4 separate regions of the Homo sapiens genome follow, and all the other regions are reported to be linked to region 2. The links are microRNA targets in miRTarBase. Many come from high-throughput screens and were not tested one by one. Region 2 holds a microRNA gene; each other region holds the end of a gene's coding sequence.
What was found. The annotated mature microRNA hsa-miR-3650 reads AGGUGUGUCUGUAGAGUCC and lies in region 2 at 2,673-2,691, opposite strand. An mRNA with a match to its seed (bases 2 to 7 or 8) in the 3' UTR can be bound and repressed. Matches are read on the target gene's strand: a 7mer-m8 pairs with bases 2 to 8, a 7mer-A1 pairs with bases 2 to 7 and ends in A, and an 8mer does both.

Region 1 (4,261 bases), not on the chromosome of region 2:
GGAACTTGATAATGGCTTGTTTCCTCACTGCCTTCAGTGAGGAAGCCTTATTTAATTGTCTGTCTCTCCCCAGAGCCTAGAAGAATACTTGGCACATAGTGGGTATACAGTAAATAATTATTAAATATTTGAAATCTGAGATGAAAGTTAATGAATGTAGGTATGGGAATTGTACAAGGGATAGGAAGTACCTTGGAGAACTTCTGTAAGCTCCAGGCATATACTCAAAGATGGGAAGAGTAGGAATCAGCATTTTCAAAAGTCATTGGGGATGCCCATTTTTTTCTGTACTGTACAGGAAGAAGGGTTTGCCTGATCTTACACCATTGTTAGAGCTTGAGCTCTGAACAAGTGAAGGTTTACTCTTTGTTCTTTTTTTTTTTTTTTTTTTTTTTTTTTTCATTTCTAGGCCATTCCCCGATTTAACCAGAAAGGAGAAGTATATAAGGCACAGATAATGAATGTGAGCTGGTCAGCTGATCACAGAGTTATTGATGGTGCTACAATGTCACGCTTCTCCAATTTGTGGAAATCCTATTTAGAAAACCCAGCTTTTATGCTACTAGATCTGAAATGAAGACTGATAAGACATTCTTGAACTTTTTGAGCTTCCAAAGAGTATGTAAACCCTAGCTGTGCCAGCACATGTTCATCTTTACAATTTATATTGTAAATGATTTGTATCGTATGATTAAGGATCTAAGGCACAATATTTGTCACTGTTCTATTAGACTTTTTACTGAAAATGAATAATGGTGTAATGGTTCTCCTGGGGCTGTCACATTTTATAGGTCAGAGTGTGACTTCTTAATATGGTGCTGATGTTTTTGTGTCAATGGCTTGAAACTGGCAAGATTAACAAAATTAGGCCGGGCATGGTGGCTCACGCCTGTAATCCCAGCACTTTGGGAGGCCCAGGTGGGCGGATCACCTGAGGTTAGAAGTTTGAGACCAGCCTGGCCAACATGGTGAAACCTGGCCTCTACTAAAAATACAAAAATTAGCCGGGTGTGGTGGTGGGTACCTATAATCCCAGCTACTTGGGAGGCTGAGGCAGGAGAATCGCTTGAACCTGGGAGGTGGAGGTTGCAGTGAGCTGAGATCGTGCTATTGCACTCCAGCCTGGGCGACAGAGCAAGACGCCATCTCAAAAACAAAAAAACAAAATTCATGTTACTAAAAGACAGGTAGCCATATACAGACAGTATATGCCCTATTTTTTTTAACTGACTCTTAATGAAACTTTAATTTTACTTAATTAAGAAATGGAATTTATATACAAAAATATTTTCCATTTCCGTTATTATGCTAATTGTTGTATGAAATAAGTGCAATTATACTTCTCTTTTGAGATATCCAAGAGTATATTCTTGCTCTGTATAGAGAATATCATCTGATAGTGTCTTATTTATATTAATTAATGTCTTTGAAAAGGGAAAAGTATAAACTGGCCTTAAAATTGTCCAATTATAGTTTTATAACCAGTCTATTAAAGGTGTTTGTTTAAAATGGATATAGTTTTAGATTTGTGGTAATGCTTTGGTATTTTCTTGGGGAAGACCTTCACCTTTGCAAACTTCCCTCATGTAAGGAAGGTACTTTAAATGTAGCAGCCACTGACATTTCTTTTTTTAAAAAAAATTTGAGAAGTCTACTTCCTTTTAACTTTTTTGGTCTTCAGCTAAAAAATAGGATAAGAAATTAAGGTCTATTCCATTCTCCATATCCTGGGTAAGAATGTAAATAAGAGGAGAAGGAAGAGTCTAATAGTAATTATGGATATAAAAAATAAGAAATTTTGTATAGAAATGAAGGTTTCATAATGATCATTTTGTTAAAGGTCTACTTTAATCAGAAATAGCAACGAGATGAATGTATCCAACATTTCAATTTGCATTCGGAAATCCATGTTGTTTCTAATATTGTCCAGTTGAAAACTGTATGCCAAAATTAGTTGTTTAAGTGAAGTTTTGTGACAGAAAAAAGGTTGTTTTAATATCTACTTGGTTTTTCTCAAAATGGAAATAATTTTAAAATCAGGAAAGAATAAATCAGCCAGGTGTGATGACTTGTAACTGTAATCCCAGTTATAGGGGAGGCTGAAGCAGGAGGATCACTTGAGGCCAGGAGTTTGAGACCAGCCTGGGCAACATAGTGAGATCCCATCTCAAAAAACATTATTTTTAAAATTAGCCTGGTGGCTCACGCCTGTAATCCCAGCACTTTGGGAGGCCGAGGTGGCCAGATCACCTGAGGTCAGGAGTTCGAGACCACCCTGGCCAACATGGTGAAACCCCATCTCTACAGTTTTGTAAAAATACAAAAAATTACCTGGGCCTGGTGGCACACGCCTGTAGTCCCAGCTACTTGGGAGGCTGAGGCAGGAGAATTGCTTGAGCCCAAGAGGTGGAGGTTACAGTGAGCAGAGATCACACCACTGCACTCCAGCCTGGGTGGCAGAGCAACACTTTGTCTCAGAAAAAAAAAAAAAAACCAAAAAGCCAAGTGTGGTGGTGTGCACCTATAGTCCCAGCTACTCAGGAAGCTGAGACAAGAGGATCAATTGAGCCCAGGAGTTCAAAGCTGTAGTGAGCTGTCATTGTGCCACTATCCTCCAGTATGGGTGACAGAGTGAGACCTGGTCTCTAAAAAATAAAATAAAATAAAAAAAACAGGTCAAATAAATGCTGTTGTTGTAAAATTTCAGATAATACAAAGAGTTAACCAATAAAAGAAAAAGTCATTCATAATCTTACCACTATTAACATTTTGATGTATCTATCTGTATGTATGGCTATTCTTTTTTGTTAAAACATGATCATAGCATATCTACTATTTTATTATTTGATTTTTAAAATTTAACATTATATTATGGGTAACCTTACATGTCAATAAACAATTCCACATTGTCATGCTTTAAATGGCTGCATAGGCTGGGTGTGGTGGCTCACGCCTGTAATCCTACCACTTTGGGAGGCCAAGGCAGGTAGATCACAAGGTCAGGAGTTCGAGACCAGCCTGGCCAATATGGTGAAACCTCATCTCTATTGAAAATACAAAAATCAGCCAGGCACGGTGGCAGGCGCCTGTAGTCCACCTACTCGGGAGGCTGAGGCAGGAGAACTGCTTGAACCCAGCGGCAGAGGTTGCAGTGAGCCAAGATTGAGCCACTGCACTCCAGCCTGGTGATAGAGCGAGACTCTGTCTCTAAATAAATAAATAAATAAATAAATGTCTGCATAGTATTCCATTGTATGCATTTATTATACATTCAAACATTAAACATCTACCATACCAATCATGGTTCTAAGCATACAGTAGCCACCTTCATGCTTCCTTGATTGGGCTTACAGTCTAGTAAGGAGACAGATATTAAATAACTGCATAAAACACTGTTCTTGGTAGGTAATAACCCAGATGCTATGAGCCATCCAGTAAAGGTTACCGATCTTATCTGGAAGGATCAGAAGATGGATGTCCCATAATTTAACCAATTATCTATTGATAGGCATTTATTGAGTTTTAAATGAATAATGACATGATCAATAAAAATGTCCTCCTCACTTAAAGAATAGAAAAACCAGGAGAAGGGAGTTCTGAAATAAGTAAGTATGTAGGTCCAGCATCAATGGCTCAAGATACTCTATTCCCAAATAACCCTTAAGTTATCTGGTTCTATTCCAACCCTTGGGTATTACTATCTTCTCTTTGGTCTCATGCATTGAGAATTCAGCAAAGGATTTGTTCCCTACAGTGTGCACGGCCCTTAGGATAGCAGGATTCCCTGAAGAGGGCCAAAGGGGCAGGAGCGCAGCCTTAGTGGCAGTGCTGGTCCATGAGGCTCTACAAAGCAAGGGATGGGTGTTTGGGAGGAGGAAAAGGCTCTTGCTGTACTCCTAGAGGTTGGAATTAAAGTGGAAAAGCCAGAAAATTCAAGTCCTTTACTAACATGTCTGGAGATTAGAAGGTATATGTACATGGGGGAGAAGCCAAAATTATTGCTGCGAGTGGTCAGCAAGAAAATCAAGGCTCTTTTCATTATTTTGAGCATTCCTCTGATATTTGAAAAGGAAGTACAACAGGAAAGGAAGTCTGAGGATGGAAGCTAAAATTGGTATGAATTTATATTTTAGAGATCAAAATGTACCTTATGTTGAAACCTATGTAAGAAGTGATTATGTAGAAAGAGTGAAAGTGATAGCTCTTAGTCTGGAAAGCCCACTGGCTTGTTTGGGCATTTCTCATGGCTTCCCACTCAAAG
Region 2 (4,000 bases):
AGGATGACCATTCAGAAGCAAATTTTTCAAAAATCACAAAAGTTTTGCTCCTTCAACAGCAGAGTCCCTGATTCTCATTCCCCAGAAGAGAATACAAGTCTCCACTAATCAAGAGGCTTGCTAGTGATCTCACTCACCTATTACAAAGCAAAGAAGTCTCAATTCAATTCTTGAAGAGGAAATAGCTGCTCCGATCACCTTGGGAACACATCATATATTTAAATTGAGCTTGCAACTAACTCCCTAATGAAGTTTCCAAATGAACAGTTGCCCCCGACTATAAAGCATAAAGTCAACGTAGAAGACAACTAAAAGAATGGTCTCGTGTTTTTAAAAAACACATTATACTTAGGCTTCCTTTTCTCTGCCAGGCTTAGACAAGAAACTCTCTGGTAACAGTGAAATGTAATTTCAGATCTGTGACAAAATAATCATGTAAGGGGAAGGGCAAGTAGCATTCGCGCTGAAAAAACTCCTTGGTTTTTCCACTTGTGAAAAGGAAAGGTTTGCCTTAAATTTAATTTCTGTACCATTTCTGGACCCCTGCCTAAACGATACTACTATATCACATTAATCTTACTTCAAGCAAATACTTTTTAAAATTAAAAACTAATCTGAAACTGAACAGGAATCGGAAGACAAACTTTAAACTGAAACTTTTCTGTTGAAAGAATGTATCTTTTAAAGACACATAAAAAGAAATGCAAAGAACCGATTTCCATATAAATGCCACTCAATAACAATACAGGTTATAACAATATTTGACTGCATTAAACATTCAAAAAGGAACACAAAGATACCCAACTGCAAATAAAAGACCTCATATATTTTTGGTAGCGGAATGTGGGGGGTGGGGGGCAAAAATCACATTAATTCAGATTAATCATGTAAATTCAGAACACGTGATGTGCAGTTTTGTGTCGCTCAGAACTCCTGAATCCAGCTTTGTGCTTTTACACAACATAACAGAAATGGCATCTTTCACAAAGCCTAACTTTGACCTCCAACACTTTAACTTTGGGTTTAACCAGTACACCACCTTCGGAAGTTAGCACATAAAAATACAGGTAAGTCAAATGCACTACGGATACAGAAAGGACGAGGAACAGGTTTAAAGGGGAGTTGAAGCAGAGGGGCACGAAATCACCTGGCAGGTCACCTCTCCGAAGGAAAAACATTTCAAGCTCCCTCCCATCCCCCAGGTAACCTCTGGCCTCAGAACTCACTGCCCTGCGTGGGGCAGAAGTTCTGGGCGCTGGAGTCCGCGTCCCCCAGGACACGAGGGTGACCCAAGGGCGCGCGGAGAGCGGCGGGACCCGGAGCGGCGCTCTCCGGGGTCACTCCCCTAGGACGCTCCGCAGAGCTGGGAGCGCTGCCCCACCCCGCCCGGGCCGCCCCTGGGGACCCCGCTCGGGGCTCCGCGGCTCCCCTGCTCCGCGCCGCGCCCACCCGCCCCCAGGACTCACGGTACGCTCCCGCGCCGCTATCTTGCCATCCCCTGCCGCCGGCTCTGTAGCCTCGGCCGCCGCCCCGGGGCTGCCCAGATCCCACAGCCGCCCGGGGGCAGGAGCCGCCAAGGAGGGGGCCGGGCACAATGCGCCGCCGCCTCCGCAGCCGCCGTCTCGCCTCCCCTGTGTCGGCGCGAGGCTGCTTGAGGCGGCCACGGGCGAAGGGCGGCCCGCTGCGCTCCGCGAACCCCGCGGGCCGCCGCCGCCGCCAGAGCCTCCCAGAGGCAACGGTAACGGCCACCGCCACGGCCGAGTCGCTCCAGCCGGGACTGCGGCGCGCGGGGGCGGCGCCTGCACGCCGCTCGGCTGGGGGCGCAGCGGGCCCGGCCCCGCCCCTGACCCGCCCCTGCCCCCGGCCCCGGCCCCGCCCCAACCCGCGCGCCCCCGCCGATCCCCGGCCGCGCGCCCGCGCGCGCGGGTGCTCCAAGGAGTCGGAGGAACGCGGCCGCGCGACGGGCCCCGGACGCCGAGGGTGGTGCTTCCTCCGAGCCTCCGGTGGTGAGGCCGCTCTCAGAAGGTCATGGAAGCGCAGGGGAGAGCGAGGCGGCCGAGCCCAGGCAAATCCTCGAGAAAGGCCGAGTGCGCGACGGCTCTGCGGGGAGGACCGCGCCTCCCCGAATGCGGCCGCTGCTGCCGCTGCAAACAGTGCCTTGAGGAGAGGAAAGCGGGGAACCGTGTTTTCGCCGCCTCTGTAACCACTGCACACAAGAAAACCAGCTTCTGGGAGAGGGGGATGATTGTTGGGACTTTGCGAATTACCTAAACAGCCCAGGGCCGAGGCGCCGCCGCTCGCGTCCTGGTCCTCCTGCCGGGTGTGGGGCTCCCCTGCCCGAGATGGCCAGCGGGCGCGCCGAGAGTATCCTGGAGCCATCTAGTCTTGCCTCGGAGGCGGGGTGGGCTTATTTGTGCGGAGAAGAAACGGATCTCTTAATGGGGTGAGATTTTTCCTCCGTACATTGTTCCCATTTCCGCAGTTTCACTTGGCCTCGGTTTTCTAGCAGAGTAATCACCAAATGAAATTAGCTGGAGAGCGTTTGATGGCGCAGAATCACGGTCTGAAGATGTTTACGCTGTATGCCGGACGCGTTTGATGGTGTTCTCTTCGGCACAATTAATTTTGCAAAGTTCAGAAATGTGCCAGACAGAGCCCCTGGCACGCAGTCAGGACTCTACAGACACACCTTGAGTAGGAAACAGGCTTGTTTGTTTCATCTGTGATTTATGTGATGCACCAGCACCAAGGCCAACGTGTTTTTTAAAGACCTTTCGATGAAACTCCAAAGCAATTTATAAATTGGCAAAATGAAGCTTGTTTTGTAAAATAACTCTTCCTTGTTGATCATGTAATTAAATGGGCAACAAAACACCTGAAAGGACATTTACTGAAAAGTAGACTCCCAAAACAAAAATATGTATTTCACAGCTAGATACGGTCGCTATTAGCGTCCTAATGGCCAACTCCATCCATGTGCGTATTTTGAACACTAAAAACGCCTCCTGTTACCCCTAAGACCTTGTTTGGATAACATTTTTCTATTATAAGTACTCGAAACCAACCCCATTTAAGATGTTTACCCTTATTCTTGAGTCCTTGATGGTTTGGGAAATTTATCATTATTCATATTGCACAATCCTGTCACTGTCTTTTCCATTAGGCACAGTGCCTAAGGTCCACAATATTTTTAGAGGCCCACAAAAAATATTTTAATTTCTTTTCAAATCAGAAGGAAAAAAAATTTAGGTTTAAGAAAGTATTTTAATATATATTAATATATTTGTTTTTGTGCTAATACAATCTTAAAATGTATGTATATATGTGTGTGTGTATATGTATATATATTTTAATGGAGTAAGGGGCTCAACGAAGGCAAAAAGGCCTAGAGCCCAAGAAAAACATGATGTGGCCCTGTTGCCTGGGGTTGAAAAATCCCATTCCATGAGAAGAATTTAGTTTTAAGAATATTACATAAAATGCTCATTTCTGTGGCCTTGCTATAATAGAAAGATGGAGATTCAGAGTAGTGATAATGGCTAACATCCACCTGATACACACCATGTGTCCATTACCTCTTAATCCTCACAGCACACCTGTGAAATAGGTACTATTCTCACACTTAGGGGGTAATGCAGGTTTTGTGGGGCCTGCAATTTATGCAATTTGGGTGGTCCTCTTAAAGAAAAAGCAAATACTGTGTATTAGTCCGTTCTCACACTGCTATAAAGAACTGCGCGAGACTGGGTAATTTATAAAGGAAAGAGGTTTAATTGACTCACAGTTCCACATGGCTGGGGAGACCTCAGGAAACTTAACAATCGTGGTGGAAGGAGAAGCAAGTACCTTCTTCACAAGGAAGCGGAAAGAATTGTGAGCGGAGGAACTTGCCAAACACAAAACCGTCAGATCGCGTGAGAATTCAGTTACTATCACGAGAACAACACGGGAAAACTGTCCCCATAATCAAGTCATTTCTCTCCCTAACAAGTGAGGATTA
Region 3 (4,261 bases), not on the chromosome of region 2:
GGACTTATGGCTGGGCACAGTGGCTCACGCCTGTAATCCCAACACTTTGGGAGGCCGAGGCAGGCAGATGACGAGGTCAGGAGCTCAAGAGCATACTGGCCAATATGGTGAAGCCCCATCTCTACTAAAAATACAAAAATTAACTAGGCGTGGTGGTGTGCGCCTGTAATCCAAGCTACTTGGGAGGCTGAGGCAGGAGAATCGCTTGAACCCAGGAGGCGGAGGATGCAGTGAGCCAAGATTGTGCCATTGCACTCTAGCCTGGGTGACAGAGCGAGATTCCGTCTCAAAAAAATAAATAAATAAAAAGAAATAAGGACTTTCAAGCCCCATCCCAGACATTCTGAATCTGAATCTGCATTTTTGAAAGATGCGTAGATGACTCGTAAATTAAAATTTGAAAAGTACTGGTATAAGAGATCTCAGAGGGTCTCTTAGAAGCACCCCCCGCCCCACATTCTACCTAGAATTGAATTGAGGCCTGGCCTTTCCCAGGGCTTATGGGTCAGTACAGTCATTGATATTTTTTTCTTTTTTCTTTCTCTCCCATGCTAACCATAGCTGAGAAGAAATGGCTTTGGAAAGAATGGCTTCTTGCAGAGCCGCAGTTCCAGTCTGTTCTCCCCTTGGAGAAGCACTTGCAAAGCAGAGTTTGAGGACTCAGACACCGAAACCAGTAGCAGTGAAACATCAGATGACGATGCCTGGAAGTAGGCATATAAATGCTCACAGTTAAATCTGACCCAGTAAACTCTGTGTGTTTAGGGAGTATACAAAAGAAATCGTTCTTTTCCTTTTCTTATGTTGTTGAATACTTCATTCACAAGGGAAATAATCATATCCCAAAGAGAGAGCAATTGGCTTGTTTTGCTTTTGTTATTGTTCTTCCCTGTTATCTGCTTTATAGAGAGAAGTTTGTGTGGTGGGACAGATTTTTTAAACACACTCACACACACACACACATACACACCCAGTATATATGGGGCGATGCACAGGTAGGAGCTGGCAGTGCAGGGAAGAGGAGACACTGGTCTGCAGCAACAGCTTCTACTACCAGCCCTTGGGGCACTCACCCCTGTGATCAAGCAATCATTGTCAATGACAAAGTGACTATTGAAGTTATAATTGTATTAAATTAATGCTAATAATTTGGATATTTTATTTTATTTTTGGCTGCTCGGGTAACTTTAGCCCTTAACCAAGCATATGTGGGTTTTTTTGGTTGTTTTTTTTTGTTTTTTTTTTCTTTTTCCTTTTTGGGTACAGCTGTAAAATATTTGGATATAGGAAATGTTGTGTTATTCTTGCAGCCTTGATATTCAGGGTGGATTGTAAAATATAAATTTTTGTGAGATTTCAAAGATTAAGATTATTTTGATAACATTATTTACAGATTTAAAAGATGTGGTTATCACAAGTCTCGAGGGGGAAACTACTGCATAAAATAACTAACTTGGAATAAATATTTTGCATCAGTTTGGATTGTCTTGTGTAAGAAGTATATTTTCTTTAAAATTAGATGAGTGGATTCTTTTTTAGGGGAAATATTTTTAGAAGTTGGGGGGAAATGTGAATTCAGACACAACTGTTTCTCTATTTTAGCAGATACTTTTTTGATGCAGAAAAACCTGTGCAATAAATTACCAGTAATAAAGTCAGAAACCAAGTTTTTTTTTTTTCCTGAAACTGTTTTTTAGTGCCCATGTATTTACCAGTGTACGTATTTTAAGGGAAGTCTGTTCTGTTTTCCTACTAAATAAGAACTTGGAGTGGGGGTTGGGGGAGAGTTGGACGATGGTAGCTGAATGGCTAGTGAAGGAAGCAGGTTTTTTCATTCAACAAATACTTTTTTTTTTTTTTTGAGACGGAGTCTCACTGTGTCACCCAGGCTGGAGTGCAGTAGCGATCTCAGCTCACTGTAAGCTCCGCCTCCCGGGTTCCCACCATTCTCCTGCCTCAGCCTCCTGAGTAGCTGGGACTACAGGCGCCTGCCACCACGCCTGGCTCATTTTTTGTATTTTTAGTAGAGATGGGGTTTCACCGTGTTTGCCAGGATGGTCTCGATCTCCTGATCTTGTGATCCACCCACCTCGGCCTCCCAAAGTTCTGGGATTACAGGCGTGAGCCACCGCACCCGGCCCATTCAACAAATACTTTCTAAGCCCGTGTTGTATGTCCCAGGCATTATGCAAGGCTCTGAGGATGCAAGGAGTGCCCAGCCCAGTAGGGGAGAGAATAGACAGTGATGTAAGAAAAGGACAGGGGTTCAAGACCAGCCTGGGCAACACAGTGACCTGTCTCTATAAAAAACAAAAACATTAAAATGGTCAGGTCCAGCCAGGCGTGGCTCACGCCTGTAATCCCAGCACTTTGGGAGGCTGAAGCGGGTGAATCACCTGAGGTCAGGAGTTCGAGACCAGCCTGGCTAACATGGTGAAACCCCATCTCCACTGAAAATACAAAAAATTAGCCAGGCATGGTGGCGGGCGCCTGTAGTCCCAGCTACTCGGGAGGCTGAGGCAGGAGATTGGCGTGAACCCAGGAGGCAGAGCTTGCAGTGAGCTGAGATAGCGCCACTGCACTCCAGCCTGGGAGAAAGAGTGAGACTCTGTCTCAAAAAAAAAAAAAAAAAAAAACAACCAGGCATGGCAGCAAGCACCTGTAATCCTAACTATTTAGGAGGCTGAGGCAGGAGAATTGCTTGAGCCCAGGAGGCAGAGGTTGCAGTGAGCCCATACTGCACCATTGCACTCCAGCCTGGGCAACAGAGCAAGACTCTGTCTCAAAAACAGAAACAAAATAGACAGGTCCACGTGGTAGCACACACTTGTAGTCCCAGCTTCTTGGGAGGCTAAGGCAGGAGGATTGCTTGATTCCAAGGCAGTTCAGGGCTACAGTGAGCCATGATGGCACCACTACAATCCAGCCTGGATGACAGTCCTGCTCCCGCCTCTTCGGCCTAGAGCAGGAGATTAGAGAACTACAAGCTGTCTCTTGAGGGAAAAAAAAAAAAAATGGTAGTAGTATTTCTACTGAATGCCTATCACTGTTGCACCATTGTAAAGTCAACCAGTCAAAAGTCTTAACCATTGAAAATTGGGACAAACTTAGTTGTTGAAAAGGAGGTTTTGATTTGGGCTTTGCCATTTACTTGTTTTCTGAGAACATATTTCTAAAAATGTACTCTTTATGTCAGTTGGAATTAAGCTGAACTGAGATGACATACTTTGAACACTTTGTAACTTGCTGCTGGTGGGTCATACCTTGGCTTTAGGTACTGAGTAGGGAAATGTCTTAAGTCCCTGTCTTGTTTAGAAAAGGGAGTTTCGGCCAGGCATGGTGGCTCACACCTGTAATCCCAGCACTTTGGGAGGCCGAGGCGGGGGAATCACGAGGTCAGGAGATCGAGACCATCCTGGCTAACACTGTGAAACCCCGTCTCTACTAAAAATACAAAAAATTAGCCAGGCATAAGGCTGGGCGCAGTGGCTCACGCCTGTAATCTCAGCACTTTGGCACGCCGAGGCGGGCGGATCACAAGGTCAGGAGATCAAGACCATCCTGGCTGACACGGTGAAACCCCATCTCTACTAAAAATACAAAAAAAATTAGCCGGGCACAGTGGTGGGCACCTGTAGTCTCAGCTACTCGGGAGGCTGAGGCAGGAGAATGGCTTGAACCCGGAAGGCGGAGCTTGCAGTGAGCCCAGATAGTGCCACTGCACTTCGGCCTGGGCGAAAGAGCGAGACTCCGTCTAAAAAAAAAAAAAAAAAAAAGCCGGGTGTGGTGGCAGGTGCCTGTAGTCCCAGCTACTGGGGAGGCTGAGGCAGGAGAATGGTGTCAACCTGGGAGGCAGAGCTTGCAGTGAGCCGAGATCGTGCCATTGCACTGTAGCCTGGGCAACAGAGCGAGACTGTCTCAAAAAAAGAAGAGAAAAGGGTGTTTCTTGGCCGGGCGCAGTGCCTTACGCCTGTAATCCCAGCACTTTGGGAGGCCAAGGCGGGCAGATCACGAGGTCAGGAGATCAAGACCATCCTGGCTAACATGGTGAAACCCCGTCTCTACTAAAAAATACAAAAAATGAGCCAAGCGTGGTGGTGGGCACCTGTAGTCTCAGCTACTTGGGAGGCTGAGGCAGGAGAATGGCGTGAACCCAGGAGGCAGAGCTCATTGCAGTGAGCTGAGATCGCGCCACTGCACTTCGGCCTGGGCGACAGCGAGACTCCATCTCAAAAAGAAAAAAAAAAAAGTAAAGAGGGTT
Region 4 (4,261 bases), not on the chromosome of region 2:
CTATAAGCAGAGCAGTCAAGCCCAAGCTTTGGGTTTAAATTCAAACCTGGCATTTACTAGCCATGTGACCTTGGACTATGCTTTGAACCTGTTTGATCCTGGGTAAACTGAGGATAATATGTAACAACATACATCAGAGATTTGTAGAGGGCTGAAACTCAACACACTGTCTGGAACGGGAGTATTCAACAAATCGTTGCTACTGTTACTATTATTGTCTGGGAAGACAACACTATTTTTGAGTTAAGGTCATTCTCTTGCCACATGACACTGCTGTGTTCTCTAGCACTTAGTAGACCCCCTATCCCTTTGGTTAAAAAATGTAGCTGTTTCATTTTTATCCCTACTTATCCTGTTAGCTTAACCAAGGTGAAACTAGGTATGTATATATGAAGGTAACAATTTCTAATATGGATGCCAGTTTTAAATTTAATTTCAGAAATTTTGTACAAAAAACCTCATGCTTAGGCTAATTTACACTGGGAACACTCTAGGTTAAGCCATAAATTTTTACTGAATGTTAATAATTTTTAACTTTAAACTAATTTCCTTAATATAACCGTAGATAATGTTTAATTTGGATAAAGTACACATCATTTTGGATGAGATGGTGTTAAATGGCTGCATTGTGGAAACTAACAGGGCAAGAATTCTTGCCCCTCTACTAATTCTTGATAAGATGTCAGAAAGCTGAAAGGAAGTCTCTTCGAGACAATATGGATTTATCAGAAATGCGAGTACCGTGGAATACATCTCAACATGTTAACCCAGAAGAATCTGGAAGACCACAATTACAAAATGGGGTATCCTTCCAAAGACATTATAAATAGGCATTTTCCACAGTTCCTAAAAAGAAAACACAACTGTACTTTAAAATATGTACAAAGAAAAAAATTTCTTTAAACTGAGAGAGAAGTTTTATTTTCTAATTGTAAACATATCTGTCGCACTTTAAATTCTGTTGAGCACCTAAGGAACCCTTCTTGGTCTATGCTTCTTTTGCAAATTGAATTCAGGAATAGCAGGATGGTAGTGGGAAGAAAGTATGGCAGTTTTCCGTCAGCCAATAAAGTTTTAAAATTTAAACACAAGGCATTTTGAGTAACGCTGTTTTCTGAAAGCTATTTTTTTTTTTTTGAGACGGAGTCTAGTCTAGCTGTGTCACCTGGCACATTCTCGGCTCACTGCAACCTCCACTTCCGGGGTTCAAGCGATTCTCCTGCCTCAGCCTCCGAGCTGGGACTACAGGCATGCACCACCACACCTGGCTAATTTTTGTATTTTTAGTAGAGACAGGGTTTCACCATGTTGGCCAGGCTGTCTCAAACTCCTGACCTCAGGTGATCTGCCTGCCTCAGCCTCCCAGAACGCTGGGATTACAGATGAGCCACAGTGCCTGACTTCTGAAGGCTGTCTTATTCCTTTAAAAGGCTTAGTAAAATTAACTTTTTAAGAGGTGTTTTTTTGTTTGTTTTTTTGTTTTGTTTTTTAAGACGGAGTCTTGCTCTGTCACCCAAGCTGGAGTGCAGTGGTGTGATCTCAGCTCACTGCAACCTCCACCTCTGGGTTTAAGCAATTCTCCTGCCTCAGCCTCCTGAGTAGCTGCGACTACAGGCATGTAGTCCCCAGGAGACTGAGCTGTGATTACAGATGTGAGCCACCATGCCCTGCCCGGTTTTATGTAAAGCCCAGCTAATTTTTGTATTTTTAGTAGAGATAGGGTTTCACCATGTTGGCCAGGCTGTTCTTGAACTCCTGACCTCAAGTGATCCACCTGCTTCAGCCTCCCAAAGTGCTGGGATTACAAGCATGAGCCACCATGCCCAGCCAAGAGGTGTTTTTTGTTTGTTTGTTTTTAAGAGAAGCAGGTCTTGCTGTGTTGTCCAGGCTGGACTGCAGTGGCTTTTCACAAGCATGATCATGTTGTACTACAACCTTGAACCTTCCTGGCCTGGCTCTAAAAGCTTTGTAATGTGGGGCTGGTGCAGTGCCTCACACCTGTAACCCCTGCACTTTGGGAGGCTGAGGAAGGAGGATCGCTTGAGGCCAGAAATTCAAGACCAGCCTGGGCAACATAGACCTCATCTCTACAAAAAATGCAAAAATCAGCCGGGTGTGGTGGCACATACCTGTAGTCTCAACTACTCGGGAGTCTGAGGCAGAAGATTTCTTGAGCCCAGGAGTTCGAGTCTGCAGTGAGCTATGATCGTGTCACTGCACTCCAGCCTGGGTGACAGAGTGAAACCCTGTCTCAAAAATAAAAAAGTCCGAGTGCGGTGGCTCAGGCCTGTAATCCCAACATTTTGGGGGGCCAAGCCAGGAGGATTGGTTGAGCCCATTAGTTCAAGACCAGCCTGGGCAACACAGCAAGACCATATCTCTACAAAAAATAAATAGGTGTGATGGCTCATGCCTGTAATCCTAGTACTTTGGGAGGCCGAGGCAGGCAGATCACTTGAGGTCAGGAGTTTGAAACCAGCCTGGCCAACATGGCAAAACCTTGTCTCTACTAAAAATACAAAAAGTTAGCCAGGCATGGTGGCAAGCACCTCTAATCTCAGCTACTCAGGAGGCTGAGGCAGTAGAATTGCTTGAACCCGGGAGGCAGAGGTTGCAGTGAGCCGAGATCATGCCACTGCACTCCAGCCTGGGCGACAGAGTGAGACCCTGTCTCTAAAAATAAGTAAATAACTAATTAAAAAGTTAGCCAGCTGTGGTGGTGAGCACCTGTACTCCTAACTACTCAAGAGGCTGAGATGGGAGAATTGATCAAGCCTAGGAGTTTGAGGCTGCAGTGAACTATGATCACAACACTGTACTCCAACCTGGGTAATGGAGTGAGGCCCTGCCTCAAAAACACAAAAACAAAACAAAAAAACTTTTATAACATGTACCTAACAAAGATGCAGAGTTAAATTTTATTTGCCAGTTTGTAAAAGCCTTTGATACTCATTTTAAGGGCACTTAGTAATTACAATGCCATTATGTAATTAACTCTATAGAGAACATTACTTTCAAATAATGGATGGTCAGACATTAAGACAGCCCCAGAGAGCCCCTACAGCTATCCTTTATCCCGTTTTTTGTTTGTTTTTTGGAGACAGCATCTCCGTCTCCTAGGCTGGAGTGCAGTGGTGTGATCATGCCTCACTACAGCCTGTACCTCCTGGGCTCAGGTGCTCCTCCCACCTCAGCCTCCTGAGTAACTGGGACCACAGGTGCGCACCCCCTCCACCCAGCTAATTTTTGTATTTTGTTGTAGAGATAGGGTTTCACTATGTTGCCCAGACTGGTCTCGAATTCCTGCAGTCACATGATCCATCTGCCTTCGCCTTCCAAAGTGTTGGGATTACAGGCCTGAGCCACTGTGCCCAGTCTTTTTATGCCACATTTTAAAAGGTTTGCTTATTAATAAGCTTACTGTTAATGAAATTTAGTTCAAAGTTTAAAAGTAGAATGCAGCCAGGCATGGTGGCTTACGCCTATAATCCCAGCACTTTGGGACGCCAAGGTGGGTAGATCATTTGAGGTCAGGAGTTCAAGACCAGCTTGGCCAACATGGTGAGACCCTGTCTCTACTAAAACTACGAAAAATTAGCCGGGCATGGTGGCACGCGCCTATAATCCCAACTACTTGGGAGGCTGTGGTAGGAGGATCACTTGAACCCAGGAGACAGAGGTTGCAGTGAGTTGAGATCGAGATTGTGCCACTGCACTCCAGCCTGGGCACAGAGTGAGATTCCGTCTCAAAAAAAAAAAAAAAAAAAAAAGTAGAAAGCAAGAAAGTGTCTCTGTACAGGTAGGCATGAAATGAATCCTTCTCTTCCTCCCCTTTACTCCTTTAACCCCTTCTCCTGCAATGTCTTGAAGTAAATTACTGTCATTACAGAAGAGCAATGCACTGCATCCCCCCAAAACCTTTCTATATGCTTTTGCTACCCCGTTAACAGAAGAATATACAGAACTGTCTTAGGCGAAAGTATGTACAGTAGTCCCTCTCTTATCCACTGTTTCGCATTCTGTGGTTTGTGTTACTCATGGTCAACTGAGGTCCCAAAATATTAAACAGAAAATTCCAGAAATAAACAATGTATAAGTTTTAAACTGCATGCCATTCTGAGTAGTGTGATGAAATCTTGCACCATCCCACTTTGTCCTGCTCTGTCCCGCTCCGTCTTGCCTGGGAGGTGAATCGTCCCTTTGTCCAGCATATGCATGCTGTATACACTCCCCACTTGACAGTCATTTGGTAACTGTCTTG

Region 1: miRTarBase lists DBT as a target of hsa-miR-3650. Seed matches in the 3' UTR shown: 7mer-A1 at 2,431-2,437.
Region 3: miRTarBase lists GPBP1L1 as a target of hsa-miR-3650. Seed matches in the 3' UTR shown: 7mer-m8 at 965-971.
Region 4: the mRNA of AP4S1 is a reported target of hsa-miR-3650. The part of its 3' UTR that is shown has no 7-base or 8-base seed match.

What each region holds. Positions count from the first base shown.
Region 1 is chr1:100,192,571-100,196,831 of GRCh38, reverse strand. DBT (dihydrolipoamide branched chain transacylase E2) reads left to right here. Exons shown (of 11, transcript NM_001918.5): 11 at 410-4,261. The coding sequence ends at 577. It also overlaps the pseudogene RPL23AP90. Among named protein-coding and RNA genes, the nearest start is that of LRRC39, 16 kb to the right of the region's middle.
Region 2 is chr5:38,554,868-38,558,867 of GRCh38, forward strand. It overlaps MIR3650 (microRNA 3650), which reads right to left and starts at 2,694; the gene lies at 2,635-2,694. It overlaps LIFR (LIF receptor subunit alpha), which reads right to left and starts at 1,779. Exons shown (of 20, transcript NM_001127671.2): 1 at 1,467-1,779. It overlaps LIFR-AS1 (LIFR antisense RNA 1), which reads left to right and starts at 1,919. Exons shown (of 9, transcript NR_103554.1): 1 at 1,919-4,000. RefSeq lists enhancers at 1,920-2,703, 2,056-2,165.
Region 3 is chr1:45,624,709-45,628,969 of GRCh38, reverse strand. It overlaps GPBP1L1 (GC-rich promoter binding protein 1 like 1), which reads left to right. Exons shown (of 13, transcript NM_021639.5): 13 at 562-1,666. The coding sequence ends at 714. Among named protein-coding and RNA genes, the nearest start is that of CCDC17, 2.8 kb to the right of the region's middle.
Region 4 is chr14:31,092,342-31,096,602 of GRCh38, forward strand. It overlaps AP4S1 (adaptor related protein complex 4 subunit sigma 1), which reads left to right. Exons shown (of 6, transcript NM_001128126.3): 6 at 566-4,109. The coding sequence ends at 694. Among named protein-coding and RNA genes, the nearest start is that of STRN3, 68 kb to the left of the region's middle.